4 linked regions of the Homo sapiens genome follow. The protein of the gene in region 1 purifies or fractionates together with the protein of each later gene. This does not show direct contact. Each region holds a gene or a part of one and is shown in the gene's direction. Other genes may lie near its edges.

Evidence for each region. The genes of interacting proteins can lie anywhere in the genome.
Region 2: the proteins of LMNB2 (region 1) and DDX59 purify together in Homo sapiens (affinity purification with mass spectrometry; one large-scale study listed by BioGRID and IntAct). This does not show direct contact.
Region 3: the proteins of LMNB2 (region 1) and RTEL1 purify together in Homo sapiens (affinity purification with mass spectrometry; one large-scale study listed by BioGRID and IntAct). This does not show direct contact.
Region 4: the proteins of LMNB2 (region 1) and DHX40 purify together in Homo sapiens (affinity purification with mass spectrometry; one large-scale study listed by BioGRID and IntAct). This does not show direct contact.

What each region holds. Positions count from the first base shown.
Region 1 is NC_000019.10:2,442,559-2,447,901, reverse strand, and holds part of LMNB2 (lamin-B2), read left to right. Parts: intron 1-3,361; coding exon 3,362-3,498; intron 3,499-5,343. UniProt on the Homo sapiens protein: Lamins are intermediate filament proteins that assemble into a filamentous meshwork, and which constitute the major components of the nuclear lamina, a fibrous layer on the nucleoplasmic side of the inner nuclear membrane.
Region 2 is NC_000001.11:200,666,791-200,672,282, reverse strand, and holds the start of DDX59 (probable ATP-dependent RNA helicase DDX59), read left to right. Parts: upstream 1-2,375; 5' UTR 2,376-2,516; exon of another isoform or gene 2,517-3,669; intron 3,670-4,517; exon of another isoform or gene 4,518-4,922; intron 4,923-5,342; exon of another isoform or gene 5,343-5,437; intron 5,438-5,492.
Region 3 is NC_000020.11:63,663,749-63,668,628, forward strand, and holds part of RTEL1 (regulator of telomere elongation helicase 1), read left to right. Parts: intron 1-2,255; coding exon 2,256-2,331; intron 2,332-3,720; coding exon 3,721-3,805; intron 3,806-4,880. UniProt on the Homo sapiens protein: A probable ATP-dependent DNA helicase implicated in telomere-length regulation, DNA repair and the maintenance of genomic stability. Acts as an anti-recombinase to counteract toxic recombination and limit crossover during meiosis.
Region 4 is NC_000017.11:59,605,165-59,609,162, forward strand, and holds the end of DHX40 (probable ATP-dependent RNA helicase DHX40), read left to right. Parts: coding exon 1-20; intron 21-281; coding exon 282-510; intron 511-1,868; coding exon 1,869-2,008; 3' UTR 2,009-3,181; downstream 3,182-3,998. UniProt on the Homo sapiens protein: Probable ATP-dependent RNA helicase.

The sequences.
Region 1 (5,343 bases):
TTGGAGCTGCGGTGCTGGGGCAGCCTGAGACTCTGACTTGTCCAGATGGCCCAGCATGCGTTGGTTTGAGGCTGAGGGTCCCACCTCAGAAGAGGCCCGGTCACTGCCAAGGGGTGCGTCCTGGCAGGCCCCCAGCCCTCTGCACAGGAGCCTCGCCTGTAACATGGGGGTGTGGCCCTCCAGATGCAGGCCGACCCTGTACCCACCTTGCATAGACACCCTTGGCCCTGTAGGGCTGTGGGAACATCACGGCGTTCTAGCGGGTGGTGCTGGGCCTGGTTCCGCCTACCATCCTCCGGTCCTCCTTTTCCTCAGCGCCAGAGCCGGAGCAGTTAATTCCCGCCTCATAAGGTTCACCCAGCTCACCCGTAGGTTTCGCGTTTTCATATCTCCACAGCTGTGCCACCACCAATGTGTCCAATTTTAGAACGTTCATCCCCACTAAAAGAAGCCTGTCCCCCTCAGCGGTCACTCCCCGTCCCCTTCTCCAGCCCCGCTGCCCACACACCCGCTGCCTGTGTCTGTGCACTGGCCTGACCTGGACATTTCATGGAAATGGGATTACACACTGTGTGGCGTTTTGTGTCTGGCGTCTCATGAGTGTGACATCCTCAAGGGGCATCCACACTGTGGTGTCAGAACCTTGCTCCGTTACACAGCTGGGTCATGTTCCTGTGTGTGGATGGTGGAGGGACCGCATTGCTTTTATTTTTTTATTTATTTTTATTTTTCATTTTATTTATTTATTTATTTATTTTGAAACTGAGTCTCGCTCTGTCTCCCAGGCTGGAGGGCAGTGGTGCGATCTCGGCTCACTGCAAGTTCCACCTCCCGGGTTCATGCCATTCTCCTGCCTCAGCCTCCCAAGTAGCTGGGACCACAGGCGCCCACCACCACGCCTGGCTAATTTTTTGTATGTTTTTTTAGTAGAGACGGGGTTTCACTGTGTTAGCCAGGATGGTCTCGATCTCCTGACCTTGTGATCCGCCCGCCTCGGCTTCCCAAAGTGCTGGGATTACAGGTGTGAGCCACTGCGCCCGGCACCATGTGTAGTTTTCAAACATGCATGGATGTGAATTTCATGTCTTCTGGGTCCACACCCAGGAGTGGAGTTACCGGGTCACAGGGTGGCTCTGTGACTCTTGGGGGAGCCCCTGGACTGTTTTCTGTAGAGCTGTCTCAGCTCAGGTTCCTGCCGCTGCCTGTGAGGTTCCGATTTCTCTGCGTACTCGCCCGCACCTGCGACTGTCTGTCTTCTTGACGGACGCCCTGGCTGGTGCGAAGTGGCATCTCACTGCGGTTTGCTTCCACATATTTTTAAACTCACTGAGTGCATGGCCCTGTGGGAGGAGGGGAGGCAGGAAGGCCACTAGAAGCCTGAGCTGTGCCCCCAGCTGGCGCGTGCAGAGGCCGGGCAGGTGGCGGCTGTGGTTGCAGCAGGATTAGTAGGAAGTGAAGAGGTCGCCTTCCCTGGCACCGCATGTGCCTCGAGTTCACCTGGAGGCCCTCGAGAGGGGCGGGTTTGGGGGCTTTGCGCGGGGCTTAGGGAGGGGCTTTCTTTAGCTGGGCGGCCCAGAGGGTGTTCCAGTCGCTTCTGCCTGCCCTGGTGACCCCTGGCTCTCCAGCCCCTCCCCATGTCCTTGCTGGCTGGGCTGGGTCTCCGTCGGGAAAGGTGGGGGCCGCTGGTGGGGTGGGGAGCTGGAGACTCTGACTACAGATCCCTGTGATCGAGGGGTGAAAGGTGGGGGTGACTGGTGGGGGGGGCAGCTGGGGACTGACTACAGATCCCTGTGATCGAGGGGTGAAAGGTGGGGGCGGCTGGTGGGGTGGGGAGTTGGGGACTCTGACTACAGATCCCTGTGATTGAGGGGTGAAAGGTGGGGGCAGCTGGTGGGGTGGGGAGTTGGGGACTCTGACTACAGATCCCTGTGATCGACGGGTGAAAGGTGGGGGCGGCTGGTTGGGGGGGGCAGCTGGGGACTGACTACAGATCCCTGTGATCGAGGGGTGAAAGGTGGGGGCGGCTGGTGGGGTGGGGAGTTGGGGACTCTGACTACAGATCGCTGTGATCGAGGGGTGAAAGGTGGGGGCCGCTGGTGGGGTGGGGAGCTGGGGACTCTGACTGCAGATCCCTGTGATCGAGGGGTGAAACGTGGGGGCCGCTGGTGGGGTGGGGAGCTGGGGACTCTGACTGCAGATCCCTGTGATCGAGGGGTGAAAGGTGGGGGCCGCTGGTGGGGTAGGGAGCTGGGGACTCTGACTGCAGATCCCTGTGATCGAGGGGTGAAAGGTGGGGGCCGCTGGTGGGGTGGGGAGTTGGGGACTCTGACTACAGATCCCTGTGATCGAGGGGTGAAAGGTGGGGGCCGCTGGTGGGGTGGGGAGCTGGGGACTCTGACTGCAGATCTCTGTGATTGAGGGGTGGGAGCTTCTGTCCTGGAGCCTCCGAGCCACCACATTGGCAGCTGGCCTGTCGGGGGGACACAGCATGGGAAGGCCAGATGCTCCTCCCTCCATCCCAGGGAACAGCCCAGCCTGAGCCTGGGCCATGTGCCTGCGTGTGAGGTAGGGGCACAGAGGGGCACGGGCTGGCCCCCGGTTGGCAGAAGTGGGGGATCTTGGGCTCAGCGGGGTCTGGGGGAGCGGGGGCTCCAGGTTGCAGAGGCCTGGGGGGAGTCTCAGGGGCCCAGAGGGGTCTGGGAGGGGACTCCAGGTTGCAAAGGCTGGTGGGGGCAGGGGGCTCTCAGGCCCAGTGGGGTCTGGGAGGGCCCCGGGTTGCTGTCATCACCAGTTGTCCGAGAGTGATCAGCCCAGTGTCCATGGTGCCCAGCGGGAGAGATCCTTGATTAAACATCCCACCAGTTTTCTGGTTCTGAAACCGAGAGTGTGAAAAATGCATCTAATGGCCAGGCATCGTGTCGCTATGACAGCGGCCAAGGGGCTGCATGTCCAGGTGTGGCTGGTCCTCCGGGGAAGGGGACAGGCTCCATCCAGCTGCTGTGCTGGTCCAGGCCCAGGGCCTTTGGTCTCCAGCACTGGGCGCCGCTGTTCTGGGAGCTGGAGCTCGTGGAGAGACGATCATTCCAGAGGGGGCCGCAGCAGAGGAGGAGGCTCCTGGGATGGCTGGGACCCAGGGTCGCCTGGCTTCCTCCTGGTTACCGGACCCTCCCCGACAGGGGGCTCCCTTTGCTGTGTCTGTGAGATGGGCAACACAGGGTGTCCCAGTGTCCCCAGGCTGCCATCCTCTCTCTCTGCGTGCCAGTCCCTGGGAATCTGAGCAGGGCCAGTGGCCGGGCCCCCTGACTGCTGTAGTCCAAGGGGAAGGGTCCCTCTCGCTTCACCCTGTCCTGGGTCTCCCCAGGTGAGTGGCATCAAGGCGCTGTACGAGTCGGAGCTGGCCGATGCCCGGAGAGTCCTGGATGAGACGGCTCGAGAGCGTGCCCGGCTGCAGATAGAGATTGGGAAGCTGAGGGCAGAGTTGGACGAGGTCAACAAGAGGTGAGTGGTCACGGCTGGGCACGACGTCACCCTGATCCTGGCACCACGGGGTGGACGGGGGCAGGTGGGCGCTGGGCTCGTGCGGGGCATGCTCTGATACGGGCACAGCCTGGAGCTCACAGCTCCCATCCTCTCTCCCCCACCAGTGGCTGCCACGTCACTTTTTCTGTTCTGAGGAAAGTGATAGATGCTCACATCGGACAGCAGGAAGCGCAGGGCAGCTTAAGCTCACAAGTAAAATCTCCCGCGAGCCTCCCCAGAGAGGGCTTCCTGGTCAGCCTGGCCTGTCTCCTTAGTGTGCACACGCGCTTGCACATGCTTACCTAGACCCCGGGCGGCACCCAGTGGACACCGTGAGACGCGTTTGACCTCAGGCCCCATCGTAGGCATTTCCCTGTGGTTGGATGTTCTTGGTGCCGGGGTTTTGTCCCAGCTGTTGGGACGCTCGGGTGTGTGGTGTGTGACCAGGGTGCTCATGGGTTGTTGGGCTGCCCCAGGGTTGGCTGCAAAGTCCTTCTGGGTGACAACTGTGTCCATCGGCAGAAACGATCTCCCCTCTCAGCCTGGCAGTGAGTCTTGCCTGATTCTGGGCGTGGGATGTGGTTGGGCGGCAATTTAAACAGAACGATGATGACAAAAGGAATATTTATTCAGAGGAGCCAGGAGGCCAATGAAACACTGAGCTCAAGGCTTTTCTTGATGTGAGGCTCCAGCTAGAGCGAGGTCTCTGGTGCCCTGCGTGTGGACACTGTCTTCCGTGGTCTCCGGCCACCGGCATTCAGGCACCTGCAGGTGCCTCGGATTTCCTCAGGCTGGGGTGGGTCAGGGTCTTCCCACACTGCTCATTCTCCCAGAGCCACGCAGGCCTGGCTCAGCATGGAGGGATCTGCTGGCAGGAGGGGTGGCACCTCGGCCACCTGGTACGGGGGTGACAGCAGCCAGTGGCTTGAGAATCCACGTTGTCCCTGAGTTGGAGTGTGGCCAGAGGAATGACCGGGGACCCTGTGTCCAACAGTGCCGGGGCCCCCATGCGTGGTTGCAGGTGACCTCTCCATCCGACGCCCTCCTCCTTCCTGGGCTGGCGCTGCTCCCGTGGAGAGCTGACTTCCCTTCCCCAACAGGAGACCCTCCAGGTCAGCCCAGGGACCACCGCCCGCCTGCCCGGGGCCTGGGGCTCCAGGAGGGACCATTTGTGCCCTGATGGTGGCCATGAGCCGGGGACCCTGGGGCCAGGCACCAGCCAGGACAGGCTGCCCACTCTCAGCACATCCCACACAGCACAGGTGCACCCCGGGACCTGCTCAGGCAGCAGCTCTGTGCTGTCTACCTCCAGCACCCACCGTGTTTAATAAGCAGGTTCATCAGTGGAGCCATGCAGGCTGTGGGATGACTAGAGCTTGGTCAGGGGTGCACGGAGCTCTGAAATGTCAGAACTACACCGTGCAGATGGGACAGAGCTGCTGCTGGCCCCGCACCAGGCGCCTCTCAACTGTTCACTTTAAGATGTTGAAATGTACAGGATGTGAATTTCACCTCAAATTAAAACATTAAAAAAAGAAAATGGTACACAGTGCCCGCCCTAGGTGTTGAGGAATTCCCAGTTCACAATCTCCTGAGCAGTGCGTGGCATCTACAGAGAGGCCCGTCTTTTCCTTTTCATTAAGACAGGGTCTCTGTTGCCTAGGCTGGAGCTCAGTGGCACAATCATAGCTCGCTGCAGCCTCGAACTCCCAGGCTCAGGTGATCCTGCCTCAGCCCCACCCCGAGTAGCTGGGACCCCAGGCATGCACCACTACACCCAACTAATTTTTTTTATTTTTTATTTATTTCCTTTTGAGACATAGT
Region 2 (5,492 bases), on another chromosome or scaffold:
AGCTTGAGCCTAGCAGTTGGAGACCACCGTGGGCAACATGGCAAAACCCCATCTCTAACAACAAAAAAATTCTCTCTAACAGGTGGGGTGTGCCTGTAGTCCTAGCTACTCGGGATGCTGAGGTGGGAGCCTCACTTGAGCCCGGGAGGTGGTTGCAATGAGCCGAGATCGCACCACTGCACTCCAGCCTGGGTAACAGAGTGAGACCTTGTCTCAAAAAACAAACAACCTCAACTGGAACATTTTTCTGTGAGTATAAAAGAGAATATCATTGTCTTTGGAGACACATGCTACAACTTACTCCTAAATGGTTCAGAAAAAAATATATATCTATAGTATACATATTTTATATATATAATCTCTCCTACACACTAATATAGCAAATATAGCAAACTGTGAACTTATGTGAAGGGTATACAGGAGTTCATTAATTCTGAAACTTTTTGATAAGGTTGATTTTTTCAAAATAAGTCAAAAAATTTTTTTATTTGAAAACACACTATAAACAGGGAGAAGATATCTGCAACACCTACAATTAACAAAAGAATGTTTCATTATATATACATATATACATTATATATACATTTATATATGTACACACACACACATCCTTAGAAGAGGAAGAGAAAACATGAATGAATAACATATTTCAAAGTGCTCAGCCTTATCAGTAATTACGGAATGCAAATTAAGACAAAAACATGGTATTTATTCTGGGTAGACTAGCAAAAAGTAAGAAGTGTGAAAATAACGAGGATTTAGAGAGAATTGTGGTCGGTACTGGTGGCAGTATAGATTGGTACAACCACTTTGAAAACATTTCTGCTTTATCTTTGAAAGCTGAACAGCCCCCATAGCCTCTGATGCCGCAGTGCTAATCCTAGGTTCAAATTAGAGTCCAGCGCATGCACAGAAGGTGAACAAGAATGCTCCTACTAGCCTTATTAGTAATTACTAGGGGCAGATTCAGGTTTTATGGGGTATGAGCTTATATAATTGGAAAAGAGGAGGCTTTTAAAGAAAAAGATTCAGAATGATGAATACAAATTAGGTTCAAAAGTGACTAATTTTTATAATGGCAAAAGAAATTACAACAATTAGAAATGTCACAAAACCCAGGAAAAGAGTTCTGTTATAGGTATGTGACCTACGAACTTGGGAAGTCTGATACATTTAGTCTGTGTGGTTCCCATCAATAAAGAAAATACTTAAAGTGCATTTATAATCCTATCCGCTACAGTATTGAATACATTCCTGACAGGAGAAAACTTCCTTTTGACTAGGCAGTAAGAAATAAATGTTCTGTTACTACACGTAACAACTTGGATGAACCAAAAAAACAAATGTTGAGTGATAAAAAGCGAATTCCAGGCTATATGTATTTTTATAAAGCTCAAAAAGAAGAAAAATACACCAATACACAGGAATGCATCCAAATATGATAAAACCACTAAAAATGGCAAAGAGGGACAAAACTGAAGATAGTGGTGGTGAGCTAAGAGGCCAGGAGTAGAATCCTGGAGATGCATAGATACATGCTAAATACTGATAACGTGGTGGAGTGATAGTTTCATTAGCATACTTTAAATTTTACATATTTGGTAAATATGCTCTTTTGAATGCATCGACTATTACACTGAAAATATTTTTAAATACTTAAGGCACCTGAATATAAGCTGGCTTCCCTCCTTCCTCTCCCGTGCTGTCTCCTCTCCCCCATCACTTCTCAACTACAAGCTGCTTGGGACACGTGGCTCCAGAGGTTGGCAAAACAGGGAAATGTCAGCCCACAAGGAACAAGAACCGTGACTTGTGTTATTTTCTTGTTGGTGTTGGGGTGGGGGGAGGGGTGCGGTGGTGCAGGAAATATTATCCAGCTTATCATATATGCCACATCAAGCTGACTCCGTTTAAATTTTGAGTGGCTCTACTAGCTAAAGCCAGAAAAGGGTTTTTGGGCCCAACGGGCAGAAGTGCCCCTCCCTTTTACACTCACACTTCCCACTTTCTAAGGGTGCCAGGCCCCCGCGCCGCCCTCCTGCTTCTTTCCGGACGGTCCAACTCTTTTCCACCAGTCCCAGCCCATTCGATTACGTAAATTCTTCCAAGAGGATTCCCAAACGTGCCCCTCCGTCCAGAACTCGCCCAGCCCGGACCAGTTCCGAGATTTACCACCAGCCCAGAGCTGGGCGGGGGCGTGGAAAACGCGAGGAGCCTTCCCGCCCCTCTCCTTCTCCCTCCCTCCCTCCCAAGCCACTGCCGGCTCCCAGCCGAGCTCCGCCCCCGCGGTGGCCCCGCCTCCCCGCCGCCCGGAAAGCGGGCTGCGGCCCCCTCCCAAAACCCGGGGAAGTGGATTCTACTCTACGCTCCGCTCCGCTCCGCTCCGCACCACCAACCCCGGGCCGCAGTCCTGACGAGCGGGTCAGGGCTTGTCGGGCGGAAGCCTGGCCTGGAGCCTGGAAGGGGGAGACGGCCCGAGCGGGAGCGGGAGCGGACGCGGCCTCAGTCCTGCGCGGGTGAGCGTGCCCCGGAAGCTTGGGCCCCTGGCCGCCCTGGTGCCCCTTCTCCGGGACCTGGGGCGCTAGGCCGCGGCGGCAGAACTGGTGCCCCTGCGCGGCCTTCCTCCCATCCTTACAGTTCCCCGTGTCCCAGGCCTCTACCCGGAACCGGAGCCCCGCCCGTCTCCTAGCAGCTCCGTGACGTGAAGCGCCTCGGGGTGCGGTGCCGCCGGGCGTGGGTGGGAGGCAACGCCCGAGGGGAGGGCCCGCCAGTGCACGGGGGTGCGGGGCGCGTTGGCGAGAATTGGAGGCCGCGCCGCCGCCAGCCGTCCGCCGTCCCGCCCAGCAGGAGCACGTTCCCTTTCGCCATTGGAAGACTGAGTTCCAAGCTTTTTCCTGCTCACCTAGAGCCGTCCCTGCCCCGCCCGCCACCCCCTGTACATTTTCGGAGATTTAGGATAGTAATTCTAGACCCTCGGTTGCATTTCTGTTGGAATTTTTCTGGAAGTTGGAATCTGGCAGTTTAAACAAAGAATTTTTTTAAGAAAAATATTTATTAGTATATTTGATAGTCCCCAGATTAGGTTAAAAGCCTTATTCCCAATAACTGTAATTTTGCAAAGACATGTTTTTGGTGTAAAAAGGTATAGATATGGGTTGATGAAAAGAATCAAACTCTGAAAAATATTTGAAGAGATTTATTTTGAGCCAGATTCAAGTGACCATGGCCAGTGACAGTCCTCAGGAGGTCCTGAGAACATGTGCCCAAGGAAATTGGGGTACAGCTTGGTTTTATCTATTTTAGGAAGGCGTGAGACATCAAATACATTTAAGAAATACATTGGTTTAGTTTAGAAAGGCGGGGCAACTCAATCGGTAAATGTAAACGTTATCTGGTTGAGGTTATCTAAAGACCTGGGATCCATAAAAAGGAATGTTCAGGCTAGAGATAAAGGATTGTGGAGACCAAGTTTTATTGTGCAGAGGAAGCTCTTAGATAGACTTTAGAGAGAGCAGGTTGTAAATTGTTTTATATTGGACTTAAAAGGGTGCCTGGCTCTTAGTTGATTATCTCCTGGATCTGGGAAGGAAGGAGGGAAAACAAGGGGAGATGGGAATTCTCACCAAATGCAGATTTTTCCTGCAAGAGACTTTGCAGGGGAGTTTTAAGGTACGACAAGGAAATATATTTTGGGGTAAAACATTTTTATTTTCTTCCTTGTTAGGCCAGAGTCAGATTGGAAAGTAAGTCACGATATACAGGGTTAAATAAAACCCATCTGATGAGAATTTATGGTTTGTAGGGCATGACTCTCCAGACCCCTTAGAAAGGAATTTGGGTAAGATAAAAAATTAGAGCTTAGTCCTCGTATGGTTGAGAGCTTGTGCTCTGGATCCACAGTGCCAGGGTTGTAACACTTAAGAATTGTGTGAGCTTGGACAAACCACTTAATTTCTTTTCTTTTTTTTTTTTTTTGAGACGGAGTCTTGCTCTGTTGCCCAGGCTGGAGTGCAGTGGCGCGATCTGGGCTCACTGCAAGCTCCGCTTCCCGGGTTCACGCCATTCTCCTGCCTCAGCCTCCCGAGTAGCTGGGACTACAGGCGCCTGCCGCCAACGCCCGGCTAATTTTTTTTGTTTTGTTTTGTTTTAATAGAGACGGGGTTTCACCGTGTTAGCCAGGATGGTCTTGATCTCCTGACCTCGTGATCCGCCCGCCTCGGCCTCCCAAAGTGCTAGGATTACAGGCGTGAGCCACTGCGCCCAGCCCAAACCACTTAATTTCTAAGTGGCTCAGTTTCTTCTGAGTGTATATAATGTGTTTTATACACACACACACGTTTTTTCATTATGCTATGTTATGTATATTACTATATTATTTTTTCATTATGCTATACTATGTATATTAGTCTTGTGTATATTACTCTATGTAATATACCTAGTATAGCATAATGAAAAAATATCTGTATATATATATATTAGGCAATGCTAACTGCTTTACATGGTTGTGAAGATTAGGTGAAGCACTGTGCTTGGCATATAATAAACACTAAGTGTTACTTATGAAAATAGCATTTTCTCTATGATTTGTGGCTTTGATTTTAAAGATTCTAATTGTGAAGTATTTCTCCTGTTTTCTTTTTTGATGCTATAATAGAAGGATTTACCCCAGAATTTCTATAATATCTGATACTTCAAAGTGCAAATAATCAGTAAACGGAAATAGACCATGTGTACAAGGCTATGTTGAGCAGTGTGCAGTGTTACAACACTGCTATGTGTGAGGAAGAGGACTCCATCTCTTCATCAGTGGAAGCTGGCGAATGGAAGAAAAGCTTGATATAAAGAGTGTCATGATGTCCTCACTATTCCTTTCAGGCATAACCCCAGGACACTCACTGTGTTGCCCAGGTTGGAGTGCAATGGTGAGGTCTTAGGCTCACCGCAACCTCCGCCTCCTGGGTTCAAGAGATTCTTCTCCCTCAGCCTCCCGAGTAGCTGGGAATACAGGTGTGCGCCACCATGCCCAGCTAATTTTTGTATTAGTAGAGACGGGGGTTTCACCATATTGGCCAGGCTGGTCTCAAACTCCTGACCTCGTGATCTGCCCGCCTCGGCCTCCCAAAGTGCTGGGATTACAGGTGTGAGCCACCACGCCTGGCCTTTTTAAAAATTTTTTTGAGACAGAATCTCACTGTCACCCAGGCTGGAGGGCAGTGGCACGATCTCGGCTCACTGCAATCTCTGCCCCCCGGGATCAAGTGATTCTCCTGCCTCAGCCTCCCGAATAGGTGGGATTACAGGCACATGCCACCATGCCCAGTTAATTTTTGTATTTTTTGGAGAGATGGGGTTTCAGCATGTTGGCCAGGCTGGTCTCAAACTCCTGACCTCAAGTGATCTGCCTGCCTCGGCCTCCCAAAGTGCTGGGATTACAGGGGTGAGCCACCGCACCTTGTCCTTAATCATATGGTACTTTATATGTGAACTTTATT
Region 3 (4,880 bases), on another chromosome or scaffold:
CCGGAGCACTCAGAAGGCATCGGCGGTCCTGTGGGCTGCTTTCTGCACTCACGTTTGCTGAGTGCTCAGTGTGCCAGGACTGAGGACCCTGAAGCTGCTCTTGTATTTAGGGCGGCGCTCCCCTGGCAGAGACTGAGCCAGGTGGTCCCGCATGACCCACTACCAGGCGTTTCTGGGCCCTGGCCCTTGGAGGGACAGGGTGGGCGGAACATGGGCCTGCAGGGAGGCTCCCGCTTACTGGAGGCATGTGCTGTGTTGCTGGAGACATCCTCTGTGTTGCTTCTTGTTCGCTGTGGTTTTTGGTCTGGTGGCACCAAGGACCCTCAGTCATCTTGATGTGTGGTTGTCCAGGCCTTTTTGTTGGTCCTAAGAAGGGGCTCTGCCTTTGTGCCCCCAGGTTCCCTGACAGGAGCTGCCGGCTCGTCCCGGTGATGCCTGCAGGACGTGACTCTGGGACGGGGGGTTGGGCAGATGTGCTGATGGAAATTCTCAAGCAGGCGTCATTTCCGAGGTCCTCACCTGGATTTCCAGGACAGGAGTGCCTGCTGGGTGTCCCCAGTCCCATGCAGCGGGGGTCCTTGGGATAGCATGGAACGCTGAGCATGGGCCTGGCCGGCCGTGGTCCTGGACAAGGGCAGTGCCCCGGTGGCTGCTGGGCCTGGGACCTGGTGGGGACGCTGGGCCTGGTACCTGGTGGGGATGCTGGGCCTGGGACCTGGTGGGGAGGCCTCTGACTGCCTCCTGGTGCTGCTTCCGTCTGTGTTAGGCCTCTGGGTATTGGGGCCCCCATCTGTCTCCTCCTCCAGGCCTGTGGACTCAGACCAGGAAGACACAGGCCAGCCCCTGCCTGTCCCCCTTGGCTTGGGCTCTCACTGCCCGACCTGGCGGGAGGTTGCCTAGCCGTGAACCTTCGCACCCTGTCTGCCACCGGACAGGCTGTGAGGGGGTGTCTGCAGCACCTGCACCGGCCTGAGCATCTTCAGAGTGGGCTGCAGCTCCTGGAGGGGTCTGAGAGGAAGGGAGGCAGGTATTTTGGGCGAATGAGGAGACAGCTGGAGAGCTGGCACCCTTCCTGGCCTGCGTCCTGTGAGGACTCTGGTTGGGGACAGCAAGCTTGGGGTCAGCCTGGGGCAGAGCCTCTGGGACGGCCCCGCCCCTCGTGCCCCTTCCCCTCGCAGCTCCTGTCCTCGCCCCGCCCTCAGCTCTCCGCCAGGCAAGGTTTGGCAAGTGCCGCTGTGCGGCAGTGCCTGCTGATTGGCTGGTCTGTTGCTATGGTGCTGCCCAGGGGTGTGCTTTTCCTCCCCTGCCTTCCCTGCTATCCCTGGGAGTATCTGGGGTTGGGTCATCGCTGGTGTGTGTGAGTGTGTGTGTGTGTGTATGTGCACGTGTGCATATGTGTGCGCTTCTGGCCTCTGCAGCTGAGTCCTGGCCCTCGGGGGGCCTGGCACCTCCTGGGGACAGGCACAAAGCAGCCATGATGGAGTCGGGAGCTGGGGGAGGCCCCATTGCCCCACGTGGCTGCCCTGTGACTCTGGGGTGCTTGTTAGAAGAGGTATCTGGTTCTGTCTGTGTTTAAGCAACTCCCTAAGGAATTCTTGTGGTTCCAGTTTGGGGGGCCTGTACTGTAGAGGCAAGGGAGGGGCAGGACATCCCCCAGACTCTGACTTCTGAAGCCTTTTCTGCCCGGGGCCTCTCCGCCAGTACAGGCAGTGTCCTTTGCCAGGGCTGCCATGCTGCAGAGGGGAGTGGGCCACTGTTTAGCCCAGGAAAACCTGGCTCTCCCTTAGCTGGAAGTTCTGGGCCTGTTGTGGTTGGCAGGGAAGCTGAGTGACGGTGCTAATCACAGGGGCACCTGCAGGGGTTTGTGGGAGATGCCTCTGTGGGTTGGGGCGATAGGCTGAGGGGCTGTTCTTCCCTGCCCTGAGGAGGGCTGAGTGTAGCCGCCACTCCTGTCCTGTCTTGGGCTGTCTCGGAGAGGATGCGTAGAACCCTCGGGATCCTGCTGGCCTCCGTCTGGTCCACCCTGAACCTCAGGCCTTCTGGGGGCAGAGGAGGATTCCCTCAGGATCACTCGGGTGGGGGCCTCTCTTGGGCACCTGAGACCCTCAGTGGGTGCTTTGTGGCGCGTTCACGGTTGGTGGGGGACGCCCAGCCCTGCCCGCCGTGTAGGAGCCGTTCTGTCCTGGGCATCCCCCTGTGGTCTGGGACTTAGTGGACCCTGAGGGTGTGTGTTTACCCCTGCCTCACACCTGCAGAAAAAAGCCTGGAGCAGGAGCTGGCCAGCCCCATCCTGGACATTGAGGACTTGGTCAAGAGCGGAAGCAAGCACAGGTGAGACCCCTCAGTGAGGCCACGACCACTGTCCTTCCATGGCCCAGCTCTCCTGTGACCTGTGGAGGCCCGGATATATTTCTTCACTTTTCTTTGTTCCTTTTTAAATTATGAAACTAACCACCATTCAGTACGAAAAAGTTTAAGCAGCTCTGAGGAAGATAGAGTAAAAAATTGTCTCCCTCTTCCCTGGCCCTCAGCCATCCCCGGTGGCCACCGTGGAGTGTGGACGGAGCCCTGCAGGCCTGTGTCTGTGCGGAAGCACGCGCAGTTTTGTCTGCACAGACTGTCCTGCAGTTGGCTGTTTTCACTCAGCGTTGTGGGTATAGCTTCCCATGCTGGTGCTGGCAGCTCGGCCTTGTTCTTTTGAGGACAGCAGATGTCTCCTATGTCTACCTCTTACAGCTTCAGAGATTCAAGTTATAATAAAGCTCTTCTTATATTGAGGGGGAAACCTCCCTCCCCCTTTTTTTTGAAACAGGGTCTCGCTCTGCTACCCAGGCTGCAGTGCAGTGTCACAGTCTTGGCTCACTGCAGCCTCAGCCTCCCAGGCTCAAGCGATTTTCCCACCTCAGCCTCCCAAGTAGCCGGGACTGCAGGCACACACCACCATGCCTGGTTAATTTTTGTATTTTTTGTACAGACAGGGTCTCACTCTGTTGCTCAGGCCAGTCTCCTGAGCTCGAGAGTTCCACCTGCCTTGGCCTCCCAAAGTGCTGGGATTACAGGCGTGAGACCCCATGCCTGGCCAGCTCTTTTTTTTTTTTTTTTTTTTTTTGAGACGGAGTCTCGCTCTGTCGCCCAGGCTGGAGTGCAGTGGTGCGATCTCGGCTCACTGCAAGCTCCGCCTCCCGAGTTCACGCCATTCTCCTGCCTCAGCCTCCCGAGTAGCTGGGACTACAGGTGCCCGCCACCACGTCTGGCTAATTTTCTGTATTTTTAGTAGAGACGGGGTTTCACCGTGTTAGCCAGGATGGTCTCGATCTTCTGACCTTGTGATCCGCCCACCTCGGCCTCCCAAAGTGCTGGGATTACAGGAGTGAGCCACCGCGCCCGGCCCAGCTCTGCTTTTTCTTAGTGGTTCTGCGTTGTGTTTGTTTCTATCCAGGAATAGGGTTGGTTTTACTTTTCCATCGAGTTTTTAAAGAGACGACGATTTACATGGTCGGAAACTCACGAGGACTCCCCATCCCTTGGTCGGAAACTCACATGGACTCCCCATCCCTTGGTCAGAAACTCACGTGGACTCCCATCCATCCCAGGCAGCAGCTTCCCACCTGGGCCCTACGTGCAGGATGAGGGCTCCTTCCGGGTCAGAAGACATGGCGGCCTCGGGGCACCGTCCCCTGCATGGGGTGCTCACAGGATCTTCTCCTCTCTCCTTCCCAGGGTGTGCCCTTACTACCTGTCCCGGAACCTGAAGCAGCAAGCCGACATCATATTCATGCCGTACAATTACTTGTTGGATGCCAAGGTGGGGGCTCAGTCCTGTAGCTGACGACTCCTGATGTCCAGGGGTGTCCCTGGGCTTGGGAACAGCTGTCCGAGCCTTTGCTGCTTCAGGGCCTTAGATCAGCAGGCCTGGGTGGGAGGACTCACCTCTGTCACTGGGCAGGGGCTCAACCTGGCCAGACACACTTGTGAGCAGCCCCAGGCCACAGGTCAGTTTTCTGAGCAGTCTGGGAGCGGGCAGGCTGGTGGGAGTGAGGAGAGACCTCCAGGCTGTGGTCCATAGGCCAGTGCCCGCTCTTGATCCTGACAGCTCAGGTTCTCTCCTTCACGTCAGGCCATGGGAGGCACCGAGAACACAGGAAGCCCACTGACTCCCCTCTTCCCAGCGCGTGCCCGGCCCCACACTCACTCCCCCTCCCAGCATGTGCCCGGCTTCACACTCACTCCCCTCTTCCCAGTGCATGCCCGGCCCCACACTCACTCCCCCCACAGCATGTGCCCGGCCTGACACTCACTCCCCTCCTCCCAGTGTGTGCCCAGCCCCACTCCCTTCCGCCCCGTGTGCCCAGCCCCACGCTCACTCCCCCCGCCAGCATGTGCCCGGCCCCACACTCAACTCCCCTCCTCCCAGTGTGTGCCCGGCCCTGCTGCCCTCCTCCCCATGTGCCCTGCTTTTGTGCCCCACACTTTTTACTTAGTGCAGGTGGGATCACACGCCACGGGTCAATGGTTTGTGTGTTCACGTGACGATGGCGTGGTGACGTTTCCAGATCCCGTCGTTGGTTCGCTCATTCTCGGGGTGTATATTTATTGAGAGCTCATCATGCTGGGTGCTATTCCAGGCATAGCAAGACTGGCTTCACTCACATGGAGCTTTGATTCTAGTGGTGGGGACAGGTGGACAGCAAAAGAGTAAGCACGTGAGCTGATGATACTGAAGGGAAATAGAGCAGAGGGAGGAGGCGGAGACCGAGCCAAGCGGGCCCAAGTGCGATGTCGGCGGGAGGTGGGGAATGCTGGTGGGTCTGAGGGGAGCCTCAGCAGGTGCAGCAGAGCAAGGGAAGAGGTGAGTGGGGGCGGCTGGGGGGCCGACTCCT
Region 4 (3,998 bases), on another chromosome or scaffold:
ACATTCATCCTTCCTCAGCAGTAAGTACTTCATTTTTAATAAAGGGAAGAAATTTGTAAAGTTGTAGAAATAAGTAATATACAAATGTCTTCTACTTTTCACTTTGGAGTTAAATTTACATATATCTATATTACATAGATCTATAAGGGTATTGGTTGGCCTGTGCCTCCTGTTTGAAGAAGATAGGAATTAATTGAGAAGGATTTGGACTATTTGGTTGGTTTAATGTGGAATAGGGCAGGTTATTGAGTTACCATCATTAAAAGAAATGTTTTGTATAGCTTCATGAACAGGAAACCAAACTTGAATGGATCATTTTTCATGAGGTATTGGTTACCACCAAAGTCTACGCAAGAATTGTATGCCCAATCCGTTATGAATGGGTAAGAGACTTGTTACCCAAGTTGCATGAATTTAATGCACATGATTTGAGCAGTGTGGCCCGACGTGAAGTGAGAGAAGATGCAAGAAGGAGATGGACAAATAAGGAAAATGTAAAGCAGCTAAAGGGTGAGTAAATCATTTGTTCTACTCTTAACCACTATGCCATACTGCTTCCCAGTAGTACTTCACTATTTTTGTTTATAAAAATGTTGTGACCCACCTGGGCAATGTGGTGAGATCCCATCTCTAGCAAAATAAAAATAAAAATTAGCCAGGCATGTTGGTGTGCACCTGTAGTCCCAGTGACTTGGGAGGCTGATGCAGGAGGATCGCTTGAACCCAGGAGTTTGAGGCTGCAGTGAACTGTGATTTCACCAGTGCACTCCAGCCTGGGGGTGACAGAGTGAGACACTATCTCTAAAAAAAAAAAAGTGATGATTTATGCATTATTAACTCAGAATCCCCTTTGTTTCCAAGGGGCTTTTTCTTTCTTTCTTTCTTTTTCTTTCTTCTTTGAGACGGAGTTTTGCTCTTATTGCCCAGGCTGGAGTGTAATGGTGTGATTTTGGCTCACTGCAGCCTCTGCCTCCCGGTTCAAGCTATTCTCCTGCCTCAGCCTCCTGAGTAGCTGGATTACAGGCATGCACCACCACGCCTGGCTAAGTTTGTATATCCAAGGGGCTTTTTCTATGAAATAATTAGGACCCTGGTTGGGAGGCATAAATAGTTGTGGTACTGAAATAGGACAGAAAGTTTTTCAGCTCACATACACAGAAAACTTCTTAGTAAAGCTTTTTGAGGCTGAATGATGAAGCATATTGTATTTTCTTTATTTGACATCACTGCAAAATGGAATGGTGAAGAGTTTTGCCGAATAAATCATAGAAAAATCTTTAGAAATGTTAGCCACTAGGGAGGCCAGGCATGGTGGCTCACGCCTGTAATCCCAGCACTTTGGGAGACCAAGGCGGGCGGATCACGAGGTCAGGAGATCGAGACCATCCTGGCTAACACGGTGAAACCCCGTCTCTACTAAATATACAAAAAACTAGCTGGGTGTGGTGGCGGGCGCCTGTAGTCCCAGCTACTCGGGAGGCTGAGGCAGGAGAATGGCGTGAACCCAGGAGGCAGAGCTTGCAGTGAGCCGAGATTGCGCCACTGCACTCCAGCCTGGGCGACAGAGTGAGACTCCGTCTCAAAAAAAAAAAAAAAAAGAAAAGAAATCTTAGCCACTAGGTGTTCTATTACAGTGTAATAACACTGCCACATGCTTGAATTAGGGTCAGTTTTTCTGACTCATTGGCCTTGGTGCTCTTAATTTTGTAACCATAGACTACATTGCTTTTGAAAGGGCAAAATTTAATTTTTCTCTTTATTGTTTTTACTTTGTTAACACTGAAAAATCAGGGCTTCTCTTTCTCTTAACATTTCTAGTACTGAATCTCAAAGCTAAGTTTTATTGGATTAATTTGTAATGTTTTCAGATGGAATATCGAAAGACGTCTTAAAGAAAATGCAAAGAAGAAATGATGACAAATCCATATCTGATGCACGGGCTCGTTTCCTTGAGAGAAAGCAGCAGAGGACCCAGGACCACAGTGACACACGAAAGGAAACAGGCTAAGGTGGTGAACCCTCCAATTCAGGAAGTGGGAAAAGGAGCCAGGAAATGTGCTTCTACTTTGCCAGTTATTTCAGACAGCACTACCAAGAGGAGGTGGTCAGCACTTGTTATTGGCCTATGAACTAAAAGCAAATCAAAGCTCATAAATCAAAGCTCATCAGTTCCCATAAATGCAGTTGTCAAAGAAAAGATTTGGTTGCCATAGTCATAAGCAATGATACATGAAACCAATGAAAGACAGTACATGTAATAATATTTTCCTCAGTACAATTTTGCTGGCCTTAACTGGTATCAAACGCTGTCATTGAGATGTTTTCAAAGAACATTGAGTTGTATTTAATCAGCGTGTACTCCATTTGCATTGAAGCATTAAAAATTATTTTTCTTAAAATCTCTTTAAGGCCTTCTTGTTGCTGTTAGAATAGTGCTATATATCAGGTATGTGACCATTTATTTCAGAAGGCTGAACATAAGAGGTTTCTACTCAGCAATACTTAGATGTCTAACTGTTTAATTGCTACAGAGCTTTATAGATATTTAGAGAAAAGACTTAATCAATTAGTAAATAAAATTGCCTATGGCAGGATTCTTTCTTGAATTAATATTAATCCTTAAATTGATTTTTCTGGGATTATACAAATTCCTTTTTATATAAAAGTATATTGTTTAAAACAGTAGCTATAGCCATTAACCAAAGGACAGATGATATATATATATATGATATATATATATATATAAGTTCTTTTTTAGCTGTACCTACGTACTTATATCAGCACCATGTATGTAGGTGTGATAGTACTTTCAAACAGCGCCTCCACCTGGCCTACTCTGTTATTTCCACCTGTTTGGGTAGGGCCATTTAACTTCCATTATGCCAAACTTGGGATGGGATTTTCGAAGCAGACAACACTATTTCATCGTGTTTCAAATTGGAACCTTGAGGCTAGTTAGTATCACACTCAGGCCACACTCAGCACTTGCCCACTCTTGTTTACTGCCTTGTATTCTAGTTATTTGTGTATTTGTCTCCCTCACTAGATTATACGCTCCTTGTGGGCAGGGACTGTGTCTTTTTTCATCTTTGTATCTTTCATGCACCTAGCATAGTGCTTTGCACATAGTAGTCACTCAGTGTTTGTTAAATAAAGCTATTAGTGTCATTAAAATTCAAAAGACAGTATAATGTGTGTTTTTAGATATTTTGTGTAAAAATTAAGAATCTAAATTTTTTATCGGTAACTCTTCTAGTTATTTCCTTTGGAATCTAGTTTTATGTTCAATAATAGAAACTTGAAATCTTTATCAAAAATCACAAGGACCCAAATTCATGTATTTGTCCCTAAAGTAAGGTGAGTGATGATGGTTTCTCTAAACCTTTCCAGTGTTTTAATTTGTTAATTTTTTTTTTTTTTTTTTTGAGACGGAGTCTCACTTTGTCGCCCAGGCTGGAGTACGGTGGCATGATCTTGGCTCACTGCAAGCTCCGCCTCCCAGGTTCACGCCATTCTCCTGCCTCAGCCTCCCGAGTAGCTGGGACTACAGGCATCCACCACTATGCCTGGCTAATTTTTTGTATTTTTTAGTAGAGACGGGGTTTCACCGTGTTAGCCAGGATGGTCTTGATCTCCTGACCTCATGATGCGCCCGCCTCTGCCTCCCAGAGTGCTGGGATTACAGGCGTGAGTCACCGCGCCTGGCCTAATTTGTTCATTTTTATCTTTAGTGCTCTAGACACTGTTATTAGCACATATTAATCATTTAGTTCTGTCAGTTTCTCTTCTCAGGTGTATTGTATAAGGGCATATCCTCAGATGTGGTGGGAGTGTGTGGATTCTTGGAATGAGAGCTCTTCTAGTTTAGTAAATATTAAGCATATATTCTGAATCTACACCTCACACTCAAATTATATCTGTTGTTTCAGTAATGTCCTTTATGGCATTTTTCTGTAGTTCAAGATTTAGTCTAGGATCACGTATTGTATTTAGTCTCT